Regions from separate parts of the Homo sapiens genome. Here region 2 is linked to region 1. Evidence: fine-mapped expression QTL. A gene starts in region 1. The other region holds a variant in brackets. All regions are shown on one strand. Distances are from middle to middle.

Region 1 (8,332 bases):
ATATACCATATTTTGTTTATCAGTTCCCCTGATGATGGACATTTGGGTTGTTTCCACCTTTTGGTTATTATTGGTAATGCTGCTGTGAACATTCATGTAAAACATTTTTTTTTTTTTTGAGACGCAGTCTTGCTCTGTCGCCCAGGCTGGCGTGCAGTGGTGTGATCTCAGCTCACTGCAAGCTCCACCTCCCAGGTTCAAGCGATTCTCCCTGCCTCAGCCTCCCAAGTAGCTGGGATTAAAGGCACGGGCACCACTGAGCCAGGCTATTTTTTTTTTTTCCTCGAGACGGAGTCTTGCTCTGTCACCCAGGCTGGAGTGCAGTAGTGCGATCTCGGCTCACTGCAAGCTCTGCCTCCCCAGTTCACGCCATTCTCCTGCCTCAGCCTCCTGAGTAGCTGGGACTACAGGTGCCCGCCACGACACCCGGCTAATTTTTTGTATTTTTAGTAGAGATGGGGTTTCACCGTGTTAGCCAGGATGGTCTCGATCTCCTGACCTCGTGATCCACCCTCCTCGGCCTCCCAAAGTGCTGGGATTACAGGCGTGAGACACTACGCCCGGCCTTTGTATTTTTTTAGTAGAGATCGGGTTTCACCATGTTGGCCACGATGGTGTTGAACTCCTGATCTCAGGTGATCCACCTGCCTCGGCCTTCCAAAGTGCTGGGATTACAGGCATGAGCCACTGTGCCCAACCCACGTAAAACATTTTTGTTTGAACACCTGTTTTCAATTCTTTTGGGTATACACCTAGGAGTAAAATTGCTGGCTTATAAGTAATTCCATGTTTAACTTATTGAGGAACTACCAAACTGTTTTTCATGGAAGCTGCACCATTTTACATTTCTACCAGAAATGTATGAAGGTTCTAGTTTTTCCACATTCTTTTCAACATTTGTTTTCTATTTTTTTGATTATAGACATCCTGGTGAGTGTGAAGTGCTATCTCATTGTAGTTTTGATTTGCATTTCCTTAATGACTAATGATGTTGAGCATCACTTCATATGCTTATTAATATTCCATTAACATATGTTTCTTAGGAGAAATGTATATTCAAGTCCCTTGCCCATTTTTTTAGTTGGGTTGTTTTTCAGTTGTTGATTTATACAAGTTCTTTATTTATTCTGGATACTGCACTCTTACCAGATATACAATTTGCAAATATTTTCTCTCTTTTTATATTTTTTCCACTCGTGTCCTGAAAGTCATTTTTTCCTTCTGAAATACCTTGATAATAAATGCATTGCTGACTATGCCTTTGCCACTTAGTCCTTTCCTAGGGCCTTCAATAACGCTTATTTTCGAAGACACTTGATGTTTTTATTTTGTTGAGACAGAGTCTCCCTCTGTCGCCCAGGCTGGAGTGCAGTGGTGCGATCCTGGCTCACTGCAAACTTCGCCTCCTGGGTTCAAGCGATTCTCCTGCCTCAGCCTCCTGAGTAGCTGGGATTACAGGCGCCCACCACCACGCCCGGCTAATTTTATTTTATTTTATGCTTTTATTTTTAGTAGAGATGGGATTTCACTATATTGGCCAGGCTGGTCTTGAACTCCTGACCTCAAGTGATCTGCCTGCCTCTGGCTCCCAAAGTGCTGGGATTACAGATGTGAGCCACCACGCCTGGCCTCTTGATGTTTTTTTAAATTGAGTGTTAGGTACATGCATGCCCATTTTATTGACATTTTATTATATAAAGGTTATATTCCCTCTTATATCTGTATGTATAGGTATTTTTATATGAAATAAATTTTAAATGCTTGACAATAATGTCTCCTCTACGACTTCTATTTTCTGTTCTTGCATTCACTAACATACTTTTAGAATGAATGAGTGGTCTATATTCTATATACTTTTATAGAATGAGTGGTCTATATTTTCTGCTTCGTTTTATCCACAACTGATGCCTCTTCAATTTCTTGCAATACAACTTTTTTGTCCTGAAATAATGAAACATTTGGGTCTGTGCCCGACCCTTATCATTATTCTTTCTTCCTAGGTAATGTTACTCATGATTCATCCACCTACTTGCATTATACAGATGACGCCTAATCTGTGTCTCTGAACCTAAACCCTAACCCAAGTTTTATTATTTATTTATTTGAAACAGTTTCCCTCTTGTTGCCCAGGCTGGAGTGCAGTGGTACGATCTGGGCTCATTGCAACTTCAGCCTCTCGGGTTCAAGCGATTCTCCTGCCTCAGCCTCCCAAGTAGCTGGGATTACAGGTGCCCACCACCATGCCCAGCTAATTTTTCGTATTTTTAGTAGGGACTGGGTTTCACCATGTTGGCCAGGCTGGTCTCGAACTCCTGACCTCAGGTGATCCACCTGCCTCGGCCTCCCAACGTGTTGGGATTATAGGCGTGAGCCACTGCGCCCAGCCAACTCAAGTTTTAGAACTCTATATGCTGGATATTTTCAGTCGTTTACTTTACCAGATGTATTTCCCCTATTAATCGTTTTTTTCCTATCCACTTTTCTATTTCTTCAAACCATATCAGTTTCAGTCTCATATCTTTGTAGTAATCATTGGTTACTCTCTCTTCTGTCACTTCTGATCAGTTATCAAGTCTTTCGTCTTTTACTTTAAATATACTTCATTTCCACTCAATGGTCAATCATCCCATTTTAATCCACTATCGCAGAGTGCTGGAATTATTTCAATAGCTCCTCTCTGCCTGACCACTTCCTCTCCCTCCTTAGGTGATAATCTTTTTTTCTTGTTTGAGACGGAGTCTCGCTCTGTCGCCCAGGCTGGAGTGCAGTGGCGCGATCTCGGTTCACTGCAAGCTCCGCCTCCCGGGTTCACGCCATTCTCCTGCCTCAGCCTCCCGAGTAGCTGGGACTACAAGCGCCCGCCACCATGCCCAGCTAATTTTTTTGTATTTTTAGTAGAGACAGGGTTTCACCGTGTTAGCCAGGATGGTCTCCATCTCCTGACCTTGTGATCCACCCGCCTCGGCCTCCCAAAGTGCTGGGATTACAGGCGTGAGCCACCGCGCCCGGCCGGTGATAATCTTTTAAACAGAGGACTGTGATGAAACATGGTGCTAGGTGAGCAAGATAACTTAGGATATCTTTCTTTTGTGTTAGATGAAGTGAAGAAGGGAGGGTGTTGACCCTCCTGGATGAAGTGATGAAGCCCTGAACTGTGGCAATGATGCCGGAGAAGGATGTAAAAATCGTAAAGTCGACTGGTGACCAATTAGAGCTGGAAGGACTTACCCACGCTAACACCTCCCAAATATGGGAGTATTTTACTACCATAAATGAAATACATCAAGTGAATTTTTGCTAAGCGAGCAATACCCGCGCTTCGGTAAGAACTGTCACGCTTAGAGCGGGCCAACCAGCTTCCACCATCCAGATGGCGGATCCTAGATTGGCAGCCTGCGTCTCTCTAGCTACCGTCTCTATGGTTCGGGGAATCTCCAGGTCGGGGCTTGACCGGTCCGACTTTTGCGCGTGCGCGAGTCCTGGCGCGTGCCCGCCCTCAAGCAACTGTCCGACCCAGCGGGTGGGAGGGGTGGGTCTGGGAACGTTGCGGCGGCTGTCGCCGCGGCCCCAGCACCCAGAGCTGTTCTCTGGCCAAGCCTGCGCCTGTAGTCCTTCTTTGCCTCCTGGGGCGGCCGCCACCCACCCCCAGATGGTGGGTCCGGAGGATGCCGGAGCCTGCTCGGGAAGAAACCCCAAGTTGCTCCCGGTGCCTGCGCCGGACCCCGTGGGCCAGGACAGGAAGGTAATCCGGGCCACGGGCGGCTTTGGCGGAGGCGTCGGCGCTGTGGAGCCGCCGGAGGAGGCTGACGAGGAGGAGGAGGCTGACGAGGAGGAGGAGACGCCGCCTCGGCAGCTCCTTCAGCGTTACCTCGCGGCGGCCGGGGAGCAGCTGGAGCCGGGGCTCTGCTACTGTCCGCTCCCCGCTGGCCAGGCCGGCGCCCCGCCGCCCTCGGCAGCCCCACGATCGGACGCCTGCCTGCTGGGCTCGGGCTCCAAACACCGCGGCGCGGAGGTGGCTGATGGCCGCGCGCCGCGGCACGAAGGCATGACCAACGGCGACTCGGGTTTTCTGCCGGGCCGGGACTGTCGCGATCTGGAAGAGGCTCGCGGGCTGGCGCGCGCCGGCGGCCGGGAGTCGCGCCGCCGCCGCCCCTACGGCCGCCTTCGCCTGGAGGGGCCTGGCGACGAGGACGCGGACGGCGCGGGAAGCCCGTCCGATTGGGCCTCTCCGCTTGAGGACCCGCTGCGGAGCTGCTGCCTGGTGGCCGCGGACGCCCAGGAGCCCGAGGGCGCGGGCAGCGACTCGGGGGACAGCCCCGCCAGCAGCTGCAGCAGTAGCGAGGACTCAGAGCAGCGGGGAGTCGGCGCCGGGGGTCCCGAGGAGGGCGCGCCCCCTGCCACCTCGGCCGAGAGGACTAATGGGGGTGCGGAGCCGCGCCTGGGCTTTTCTGACATTCACTTCAACTCTCGCAACACGTTCCAGGTGAGCCGCGGTCAGAGCGCCCGCGATCACCTGCCCCCGGCGGGGCCGCCGGTGCCCTTGCCCGCCGCGGAGCAGGGTCCTGCGGGGGCTTCGGCCCGGGCTCGACGGAGTGGCGGCTTCGCGGACTTCTTCACCAGGTACAGCGCAGGCTGCATGGGACTCGGGGCGGGTCCGGGGCCGGGGCCGGAGCCGGGGTCTTGGTGGGAGTCGGAGCCGGAGCCGGAGCCGGAGCGGAGAGCTTGGTCGGCCGCTTCCGTGCCAGCCCCACACGCGTCAGGACTTAGCTTTGATTTGTCACTGGAGGAAGAGGAACTGGGTCGGCTTTGTGTTTCTATAGGAGAAGTTGTGAGCTCTGTGGACAGCGAGTCTTTCTGTTGCCTTGTCCGCGGGAGGCTGTACCTGCCATTCATACCTGGCTTCTGAGCAGTCAGGTTGGGCCAGCTGTCTAGTGCCACATATGCAGTTGCCTTTTCTGGAAAAGCAGATAACCATCTCCGTCTCCAATTTTTAAAAATTTTACTACAAACATTTAGGTTGTTGGGGGGGTGGTGAGGGGAGGCGGTATGTGTGTACGGGTGTGGTTGTGAAAGAGAGAAGGAAGTCATTTTGTAGAGCTGTTTATTTGCTGTGCTTGCATAGCGTCTAAATCCATTCAAGTGGTTTGGGAATTCTTGAAATTAGAAGTGGTTGTGCTTCATAGTGTTTAATCGTTTGTTTCAGTGGTCTTTATTAAAATGCAGTTTGGTGTTTAGAATTTTATCCCAACTTTTTAAGCCAAAGTAGGGCTTTTACTAAGGAAAGCCTTTTTTCTAATCTCCCAGATAAGCCTCTCCTTTTTTTCCCCAATAACTTTAGTTTTTTTAAAAAATGGTATTGTATTTGTGATTTGACAGGATATTCTTGAAATTAAATTATGGGCCGGGCGCGGTGGCTCACGCCTGTAATTCCAGCACTTTGGGAGGCTGAGGCGGGCGGACTATTTGAGGTCAGGGGTTCGAGACCAGCCTGGCCAATGTGGTGAAACCCGGTTTCTACTAAAAATACAAAAATTAGCCAGGCGTGGTGGCAGGTGCTTGTAATCCCAGCTACTCGGGATGCTGAGGCAGGAGAATCACTTGAACCTGGGAGGTAGAGGTTGCAGTGAACCTAGATCGTGCCATTGCACTCCAGCCTGGGGGACAAGAGCGAAACTCCGTCTTTCAAAAAAAAAAAAAAAGAAAAGAAAGAAATTAAATTATGGTGCTGGACTTCGCAGATTTCAGGATGGAGGTTTGTTGATTTAATAGGGATAAATAAGAGTAGTCAGAAAATACTTAATACACCTTACTGTAAGAGCAGTCCTGTAATCCCAGCACTTTGGGAGGCCGAGGTGGGTGGATCACCTGAGGTCAGAGTTCGAGACCAGCCTGGCCAACATGGTGAAACCCCGTCTCTACTAAAATATACAAAAATTAGCCGGGCATGTTGGCAGGCGACTTAATCCCAGCTACTTGGGAGGCAGAGGCAAGAGAATCGTTTGAACCCAGAAGGCGGAGGTTGCTGTGAGCTGAGATCGAGCCATTGCACTGAAACCTGGGGAATAAGAGCTAGACTTCTCTCAAAAAAAAAAAAAAAAAGGCAGTTTTCCTTGAGTTAGATTTTGACACGCCTTTTTCTTCTTCTTCTTCTTCTTTTTTCTTAAGTCCCCAGGCAAATAGGAAAATATTCCCAACTTGTAAAACTTTCCTTTACAGAGTTCTCCCTACTTTGTTTTTCTACCTTTTCGGGGATCTTGACTATAACCAGAAGTGAAAGAAGCAAATTCTTAGCTCAAGTTTTAGCAGGTTATACAATTAGCGTACATATTGTAGACATAAAGGCACAATTTTCTGATTATAATTGATATTTCTTATTCCTCTTTCTAGTTTATCCTTATTTTTTTGCTTGTATAAATTTACAAATATAAAGTTTCTTAAATCAAAAGTGGAAAATCCTAATTTTTTGTTACTCAGGACAATATATGTAGTAATGACATCTGTATTTGTAATATAGTTGCAAAAATATATTTAAAGCTTGTACTGGCAGTATTCTAAAAGATCTCAAGGTGAGTTAGGTTTATAAATTTGTGACACTGTGTGGCCTTTGGGTGTTTGTTGGTCATATCTATCTTGGTCATGTTTTGAGGTCAGATGTCAGGCAATTTTAGATCTGGGAGGGGCTTTGGAGATAACAAATTCAACTAGTATACTCTTGAGTTCTTGCTCTCTGCCATGCATTGTGAATAGAGATGATTTAGAAAACTGTCCCTTACCTGCAGGTGGGGTGCAGGCTAATGGGGATTAAGTTTGAAGACAGATGCATATATATACATTGCAATTTCTGAACATTTTTTTTTTTTTTTGAGATGGAGTTTCCCTCTTTTGCCCAGGCTGGAGTGAAGTGGTGCCATCTTGGCTCACTGCAACCTCTGCCCCCCTGGGTTCAAGTGATTCTCCTGCCTCAGCCTCCCAAGTAGCTGGGATTACAGGCACCCGCCACCACGCCTGGCTAATTTTTGTATTTTTGGTAGAGACCAGGTTTCACCATGTTGGCCAGGCTGGTCTTGAACTCCTGACCTCAGGTGATCCACCCGCCTCAGCCTCTCAAAGTGCTGGGATTACAGGTGTGAACCACTGCCCCAGCCAACAATGTTATTTATAGGAGGCTTTCATATTATTAACAGTAGGCAGGAATTTTATTTTTTCTTTCATTTCCCATGTGTTTTAAGTAGGCAGGAATTTTGATTTAATTTGTAAATTTTTTTTACTTATAGACTAATAGAACTTAATATAGCTAGATGACATTCATATGGCCACATTATTCATATGTGTCAGAGCACTGGATTTGAAGTCAGAAAACAGGTGCCCTAAAGTTAATTTCTCTAAGCCTCATTTTTCCTGATAGAGGTCTGAATGTCAAGACTCTAGGAGTCAGTGCTTCCTTTATATGACATTCTTGGGAAAGAAAGGGCAGAGTCAGAGAGGCACAGTTTTTCTTAAATGAATTCTGAACACCTTAAAGGCAGGAACTGTGACATTCATCTCTGAATCTATAATACCTAGCCACTGGTATGAAGAACACCATTCAGATTGGGTTGAATAGGTAGCTTTCATGGATTCCCTTTTACTGTGCTCTAGCTAGGTAGTGTAATTTTGAGCAGAATCTCCATCCTCAGTGAAAATAATCAGAAATTACCCCTGTCTCACAACACAACCCAAGAGATCCAACCCTACCCCTAAATGCATAGTTGCTATTCTCAACTCTGAAGCTCCAGGTGAGGGCTCTCTTTGGAAGTGGCTTGTTTGGGATGGAATCTTGTTCTTGGGTGCAACCCTTACTCCCACTTCATTTTTTTAGATGAGGAATCTCATTGTCTAAAGAAGGTAATTTAGTTAGCTAGTGGCATGCTGGGATTTGAAACCAGGATTCCTGATTTCCCAATCCATGTTTATGTTCAGTCTACAACCTTTGTTCACTTTATGGCTCTTTTCTCTCCCACCTATTTATCCTCCATGCTTTCCTTCTTCTTCCCTTCCCACTTCGTTCTTCTCTTTCCCTTAATTAGGCAAAAATCTATACGAGAAACCTTAAAAAAAAAACAGTTTTATGTTTACTTAAGTAAAGAGGGGGGAGCATTTTACACAATGTATCTATTACTACATAGTATTATGTTAAGACACATCATTTTGGTAGATATATAGGAAAAACAGGAATTCATTTAGAATATGACTGCTTTCATTTGGAGGGCCTTAGTGGTCATCTCCCACTTTCCTTCCCTTCCACATGAGGTGAGTTCTATTTCAGTCCCTACTGGGGGCTTGCTTCAGCTTC
Region 2 (8,332 bases), 36 kb before region 1:
CTCCGTGCCTGTCTCTTCGTGATACTCTGAAGTGGTGCGCGCACACAGTGGGTAACCAAGGATGAGCTCGGTGTAAGGAATGGAAAGCCCCCAGTCTAAACCACCGCCCCCTAGACACGGGTGAAAACCTGCCTAAAAGCTAACTCAGGCAGTGACTCTATCACCCGAAGGGGCCCTAGGCCGCGGCGACCGGGCTTTTGAGGACACTTACCGCCTTCATCCTTAGGCCTTAAATGAATGCCGGCCAGACAAGTTCACCAGAAGCAGGGTTACTACAGAAATCCCGGGGAATGACACACGTGCCGAAGTCCCTACACTACCAGAGCCGGAAACGGCCTTCAGTCCCTCCCAATCCTCCGCCGCCGGAAGTGAGGGCGGGACTTCCGTAGACAGGTTCGGGCTCGCGCCCTCTCGCGGTGACTGTCTCGCGGCCCTGGACCGGTTGCCCCCCGGCGTGCGCGCGCGGACTGGCACGAGGGAAGCCCCGAGGGCGTCGGTGCCAAAGGCGGGAAGCCGGGCGGGAGGGGCGCATTTTGCAAGGTTATCTGAGTATGATTCTTTGACTCTCGCCCTATTTATTTCTTTTAAAACCTTGGGGAAATCGGGCTCCTCCTCTCAGAATGAGAGGACTTGGTTTTTTCGGTCACCTCATTGCATTTTGTGCCTCTCCTCACGTTGCTTATCTCATGCTGTTATAGATACTGATTTTCGTAGTCTTTTTCCTCCATACAGTCCTGAGGGCAGAAAGAAGCTTATTTTTTGTGTGTAATGCCTGCCCCTCGACGGACATTCTGGCCGTGTTTGTAGCATGGCGAATGATTTCTCATCAGCCTTGGTCACTTAAAAGTCTGTGATTCTTAGTGTTTTATTTTGCATTTTTTTTTTGCTTTAATTTTTAACCATTAGCTGATAAAGAACTGTATCCATGGCTGGGTGCGGTGGTTCACGCTTGTAATCCCAGCACTTAGGGAGGCAGAGGCGGGTGGATCACCTGAGTTCCAGGAGTTCGAGACCAGCCTGGCCAACATGGTGAAACCCTGTCTCTACTAAAAATACAAAAATCAGCCAGACATGGTGGCGTGCGCCTGTAATCCTAGCTACTCGGGAGGCTGAGGCAGGAGAATCGCTTGAACCCAGGAGGCAGAGGTTGCAGTGAGTCGAGATCACACCACTGCACTCCAGCCTGGGTGACAGAGCAAGACTGTCTAAAAAATAAAAATAAAAATAAAAAACTGTATCTGCATTTCAGTATCTTACAACTTTGGGTAAATTCTGTCTGCTTAGTAATTTCACCAAAGTCGTTTTTTGTTTTTGTTTTTTGAGACGGAGTCTTGCTCTGGCGCCCAGGCTGGAGTGCAGTGGCGCAATCTGGGCTCATTGCAAGCTCTGCCTTCTGGGTTCACGCCATTCTCCTGCCTCAGCCTCCCGAGTAACTGGAACTACAGGCGCCCGCCACCACGCCCAGCTAATTTTTTTTGTATTTTTAGTAGAGACGGGGTTTCACCGTGTTAGCCAGGATGGTCTCGATCTCCTGACCTCGTGATTCGCCCACCTTGGCCTCCCAAAGTGCTGGGATAACAGGCATGAGCCACCGCGCCCCGCCTAAAGTCGTTCATTTTTACAGGAAGTTTTATGGATTGCAAGAATAAGAGTATCAAAGTGCTTGTCTCTCAAAGACTTTTTTTTCTCAATAAATTTAAGCATTCCACTTCAAGTTTTTTGTGGGTTTTTTTGAGTCTATGATTTTTGAGCATGGCCCTGACACAGAGTCTGGCCTCGCAGTCCTGAGCAGGTGGGAAAACCCAGTAGTGCGGCTCAAAGGGTTCTGAGCCCCTTGAATAGTGTTGCTCTTAGAGAGACTGAGGGAAAAAAGTACCAATTTCCTGATCCCACCACAAAGACCAAGAGGTCCATCTGGCACTCTTCTTTCAACCTCCCTTCCAACTTCTTCCTTGCTCTGTCTCCTTCCACACAGTGTCAGAAACAGCAGAGCCTGTCCCGCTGGAGTATTACTTCATCAAACAAGTGGAAAACATCAGCCTGTGCTCTTCCCAAGTGCCTGAATTCCCTCCCAAGCATATCAACATATCTACAGTCACTCCCATCCTTTTAGCCTTCCTTCCAGTCTCTCCAAGGATGAGGCATCCCCATTCCAGTTCAAAACCAACTCCTCCCAGCTTCATCAGATTCTTGTATCATTAATTATCCCTTCTTTCCTGTGTTCTTTCCCTCTCTAATAGATCCTTCCCCTCAGCTTATAAACATATTCAAATCTCTTCCATTTTTAAGATTTGTTCTAATAAACTTATCTCCCTTTAATTGCTCTTTTATGTGCCTCTTTTCCTACTTGTCCCTACTTCCAGAAAAAAGTATTCTTTTAGCGTCTCCACTTTCTCTTCTCTATTGTCATAGCCCAATCCTGTGCTAGTATTTTCTTTTTTAATATAAAGATTGCCTTTTTTTATTTTTTTTCTCTGTTGCCCAGGCTGGAGTGCAGTGGCAGCTCTCAGCTCACTGCAGCCTCAACCTCCCAGGCTCAAGGGATCCTCCACCTCAGCTTCCTGGGTAGCTGAAACTACAGGCACGCACCACCATGCCCGGCTAATTTATATTATTTGCAGAGATTTGGTCTTGCTATACTGCCTAGGCTGGTCTCAAACTCCTGGGCTCAAGCAGTCCTCCCACCTCAACCTCCCAAAGTGCTGGGATTACAGGCATGAGCCACCATGCCCAGCATGTGCTAGCTTTTTTAAGAACTGTGTCATACTCTTGGCCCATTTTAAGTTTACAATCAACTAAAATCTCTGGATCATTTTAAAGCAATTGTTGCCAAGCTAAATCTCTCCCATCTTGAATTCGAGCAGCCTGTTGTTCGAAAATACTCAAAAATGGAAGTTTATATGATTCCTTTTAATTCCATTTAATCTTGCTGGTTTCTTAATTCTGTGTGTCCACCTTTGTGTCATCTCTTCTTCACTCAATCCACTGCCAAGCCCCATTTGGACTCCAGATCCTCTTAGATCCCTTAGAGCTTTCCTGGACACTTGAGCTGATAAGGGTCACTGGGCTTTCCCAAACTAGTATCACAGGGATTGTACCTGGAGATTCCTGTTAGCACTTTCAGGAAGTCTGTTAAGAACTTACGTGGCTTTGCCCATAACATTCCGCTGAAACTGATCTAATTAAGGTCACCAAGAACCTCCAAAGTGTTGTGAGTTTTTTCTAATTGTGTACGGAATTACATTACTTCTTTCTCATTTAACCTCACTAGATCTCTCTGCTGCCTTTGATGCTACGCGTATCTCCCTTCACACATTAGAATGTTGATTCCCTTGGCTTTCCTAATAGCCTGTTCCCCAGGTTCTCCTCCTACCTCCATTTCTTCCTCCTTAGGCTTCTTCAATGTAGGTGACTCTCAGGGTTCTACTCTTGGCCCACTTGTCTACCACTCTTCTTGCTCTACTTGCTTTTCCAGCGTGATTTCATCCATCTACCTATTACAAAGAGATTTTGTCCAGCCTATACTTCTTCCCCAAGCTTCATTCTTATAGCCATCTGCCTCCTGGACAGCTCTACCTCCTAACCATGGGACTTCACATTACCATGTTCAAAAGAACTATTTTTTTTCACTTGTACCTCTTGTAACATTCCCTATTTCTTTCTTTTACCCACAGCTAGAATCCCAAATACTCCAGAGATCTTTGTCAACAAGCAAGGGCTTTCTTGGCCATTTACCGTATTATAATTAATCCATTTTCTATAAACAAACAGTTTTGAAAACTGTCACTAAGTGGACATGGAATAATAAACAAGGCTTCTTTTTTTCCAGTACCACAAGATAATTTACATAAGTTATAATAAGGGACTATATGAATGTTTGTCACTTTGTAGTAAGTGTTTGGCGATAGAAAAAGCCCACACTTCAGTATCACAAATTAGAAAATAAACATCGTAATTGGATGTTATCACTGTCAATCATCTTAGACATAAAAGAGGCAGGCAGGTTGCCCTACAGCTCACCCAAAGGGGACCTGTGGAAATTAGAAAAAGCTTCCATGTCCTTAAGACACTTCACTGTCATAGATCAAAAAAAAAAAGTTTGCTATCTTTACAAATAAACTGTGAATGACGCCCCTGGAATTGTACAATATACAGTCCTCCCTTATGTCGAAGTGCTTGGCTCTGCCTAGGCCTCTTTCTGTTTCCCTTCCTAAAATTCAGGGGAAACAAAAACAAAACTAAACTAAAGTAAAATAAAATCCAGGGGAGGGAAGGAGTCTAGAATCTCTGTTCAGACCTTTGAGATAGTGCTACAGCCAAGGGGAAAAAAAAACAACTCACTATCAGAGAGCTAAAAAAACATAACTGTAATATTTAAGTAATATTTAGATATTACTGTCCAGGCATTGTGGCTCCTGCCTGTAATCCCAGCACTTTGGGAGGCTGAGGCAGGAGGATTATTTGAGGCCACGTGTTCAAGGCTACAGTGAGCTATGAGGGTGCCACTGCACTCCAGCCTGGGCGACAGAGTGAGGCTATCGCAAAAAAAAAAAAAAAGAAAGGATTTGAAAATACGTATATCATGGTCTCTACCTTTGAAAATGTTAAAATATTGTTGAGAAATTGTGTGTGTGTGTGTGTGTGTGTTTGTGTGTAGTTGAGAATGATAATTATGAATTACCAAATAGAGAATAATAGAAAAGATCACATAGGTGCTAAAAAATAAAGACAAGCTGCTTTAGAGGAAGTCATAGAGCAATGTATACCTAAATGAGAACAGGAGAAAGGACAAAGTTTAAATAGATGGTATAATTTGTTCTAAGCAAGGTCACTCAGGTAGTACAAATAATTTATATTGTGGTGCATCAGAAAATTAGGTTAAGATAGCTAATAATTATAATTAATTATTAAATTAAAAGTATTAACCAAAAACCAAAATAATAGCAAACATTAGAATAATGATGTAGCAGATTTTTTGTCCTGCTGAACCCACAGCTTGAATCACCCCAAAAGCAGTGGTAGGCCAGGAATTAGTGGCTTCAGTGAGTTATGATCTCACCACTGCACTCCAG[C/A]CTGGGCAACAGAGCAAGACTCCATCTCAAAAACAAACAAAAGCAGCGACAGGGAAGTTCCCACAACGGTGTGTCCCAAACTGTCTTGAGAAAAGGCCCCCAGTTGGGATGCCATAGAAAGAAGCATTTTTTTTTTTTTTTTTTTTTGAGACAGAGTTCACTCTTGTGGCCCAGGCTGGAGCGCAATGGCACGATCTCAGCTCACCTCAACCTCCGCCTCCCGGGTTCAAGTGCTTCTCCTGCCTCAGCCTCCTGAGTAGCTGGGATTACAGGCATGTGCCAACATGCCCGGCTAATTTTGTATTTTTAGTAGAGACAAGGTTTCTCCATGTTGGTCAGGCTGGTCTCGAACTCCCAACCTCAGGTGATCCGCCCGCCTCGGCCTCCCAAAGTGCTGGGATTACAGGCGTAAGCCACTGTGCCTGGCCGAAAGAAGCATTAAATGCCGGGGTGATCAACCCAAAACAATTGTTAGGAGAACTTACCTACAGAGTGCTGTGGCAATCCTCATGATGGACAGTGAGAGAAAAGGGGTGTGGACCTAGGTATGTCCACAGTGAGGGGGTCAGGGTACGGAGTTTATATGAGGGTTTAAGGTATGTGACTCAGGGCCTGAGCCAGTACTTTCAGTGTTTTGGGCAACAACTTAGATACTTTTACCAGTGCCTGGGACTGTTCAAAGCCCCAGTTTGTGTTGAAGCCTGCTGGGATGAACCTGCAGATGGCTAGGTCACAGAGCAGTCAAGGCACTCTAATTTTTTATTCAGGACACAGAAAGAAAGCCGCAAGGGGCTGTGCGGGAGGTCTCCTGGGGGCCCTACACAAATGTTGTTGGTGTCTCGTCTACATATCCTCAGTACTTCGTGTTCCATACATGCTGAAAAAGTCCTCTGAGCACTTGCAAATTTTCACTTAAGGACTTTTTCTGGACCCCTGTAGGGCAGGTCTGAAGTGCCACAGATTTTTCCACTGGAAGCATCCTCAATCAACAACAAATGGTAATTGAAGGATAACTATAGCAATTGTGGTAGGCTGAAACATGACTTCCAAATATATGAAGGCTAAGTCCCTGGAAACATGAATATTAACTTATACAGGCAAAGTTGTGATTAAGTTAAAGATTTTGAGATGAAATGATTATGCAAGTGGGCAATCACATGAATCCATTTAAGAGACAGGAGATTTCACACAGACAGACAAGAAGGTAATGTGACTACAATAGGCAGAGATTGGAGTGATGTAGACAAGTCAAGGAATTCTAGCAGCCACCAGAAAGGGGAAGAGATAAAGAACAAACTCTCCCCTAGAGCTCAGTCCAGTGATATTAAGTTCAGACTTGCAGCCTCTAGAACTGTGAGAGAATAAATTTCTGTGTTTTAAGCCACCAAATTTGTGATGATTTGTTACAGCAGCCATAGAAAGCTAATATACCAATAAAATATAACAAAAACATACCAATGTCCTTAATCCTCAGAGGTAGAACACCTCTAAGGCAGCGCTCCCCAGCCTTTTTGGCATCAGGGACGGGTTTTGAGGAAGATAATTTTTCCACAGATCAGGGTGGGGGATGGTTTCAGGAAGAAACTGTTCCACTTCAGATCATCAGGCATTAGTTAGATTCTCATAAGGAGCGTCCCACCTAGATCCCTCAAATGTGCAGTTCACAGTTGGGTTCAAGCTCCTATGAGAATCTAATGCCTCCACCGATCTGACAGGAGGCGGAGCTCAGGCAGTAATGTCACTCACCTGCCGCTCACCTCCTGCTGTACAGCCCAGTTCCTAACAGGCCGCGGACTGGTACAGGTCTGTGGTCCCAGGGTTGGGGACCCCTGCTCTAAGACATCTTCCACTTTGTCTCCCAAAGATTGAGTTCCACCTGCAGAGATATCCTACTCATCAGCACACACTATTAGTGTCCTTTGCTTCCCTGCCTCACAACCCCACCCTGCTAGAAATGGTTCCTGGACTCACCTTCAAAATAAACCACTTGCACTCAAGTCCTTATGTATCTGTTTCCTTGGGCTGCCGTAAAAAAGAACCAAAAATTGGGTGGGTTAAAACAACCAAAATGTATTATCTCACAGCTCTGGAGGCAAGGTGTCTAAAATCAAGATGTTGGCATTGTTTGTTTATGTTTAGGGCTCTGAGGAAGAATCTGTTCCATGCCTCTGTCCTGGATTCTGGTGACAGCTGGCAATCCTTGGCAATCTTTGGCTTGTAGATGCATCAATCCAATCTCTGCCCCCATCTTTACATATTATTCTCCATGTGTCCCTCTGTCTTCACATGTCTGTCTTCCCCTCTTATAAGGATACTAGTCATATTGGATTAAGGGCCCACCCTAATGACCTCATGTTAACTTTATTACATCTGCAAAGACCTTTCCAAATAAGATGATGTTCATAGTTACCAAGGATTAGGATTTCAACATATCTTTTTTTTTTTGGAGGGGGGACACGATTCAACTCAAGATCAAATTCAGAGGACCCCAGCGTACCACTTATTTAGGTAATTTTTATGTTTCCCTAGATATGAATTATTTCATTGAATCCTCAATAATCTTATGATATAAATATTAGCTGTGTTTAATTTGTTTTTATTTAATTAATGAATTACAGGATTAGATATTACAGTGTGGCCAAGTTTGTGTTTACACCAGATGGGAAACATAACAAGATGCCAGTCCTGCTAGTGGGAATAGTTTTCCAACAAAAGGGATCAAATGCCTTAAGCTGTTTTCCTAATCTGCAATATTATGGTCAGGGAAAAATTTTAGAGGGATTTTCCTAGGGTTGTGATACATGTTCTTTTTTATTTAAGATGTTTGTTGATAAATTAAGCTAAGAAATGACATTTCCTGTTTCTTTACTTACATTGATTGTTCAAAGCCATTCTTTATTTATTCATTGTCTTTCAAAATCCCTAGGGAAGGAAAAGTGGATGCCATGCACAAAGTCATGCACAGTTTCTGATAGTCCTTTGAGCAGCAATAGTTTTTCACCCTCCACTCTGTACCAGACTCTGCTAGGAGCTCGCTGTGAAAGAACGTTCTGTAAAACAAGGATGTATTGTCTCTAGGTCTCTATTCCAAAGCTGCTGGGAAGTATAGCTGAATGGGAAGGAAACTATCAAATAAACTAACATCTAAGGTATCATGTATATCATCCTCACACCTCCCACAATGCCAGTCCTACTTATTTTATTTTTTAAATTTACTATTATTTATTATTTTTATTTTGAGACAAGCTCTTACTCTGTTG

The links. PIP is the estimated chance that this variant, and not a neighbour inherited with it, causes the effect.
Region 2: its variant is fine-mapped to the expression of TBC1D12 in whole blood (INTERVAL, PIP 0.92).

What each region holds. Positions count from the first base shown.
Region 1 is chr10:94,398,965-94,407,296 of GRCh38, forward strand. TBC1D12 (TBC1 domain family member 12) reads left to right here and starts at 3,577. Exons shown (of 13, transcript NM_015188.2): 1 at 3,577-4,620. The coding sequence starts at 3,650. RefSeq lists enhancers at 3,325-3,484, 4,785-5,084 and silencers at 3,815-4,304, 4,375-4,704.
Region 2 is chr10:94,362,619-94,370,950 of GRCh38, forward strand. NOC3L (NOC3 like DNA replication regulator) reads right to left here and starts at 321. Exons shown (of 21, transcript NM_022451.11): 1 at 212-321. The coding sequence starts at 220. RefSeq lists an enhancer at 1-254 and a silencer at 395-524. The variant C/A (reference allele first, on the strand shown) is at 5,073.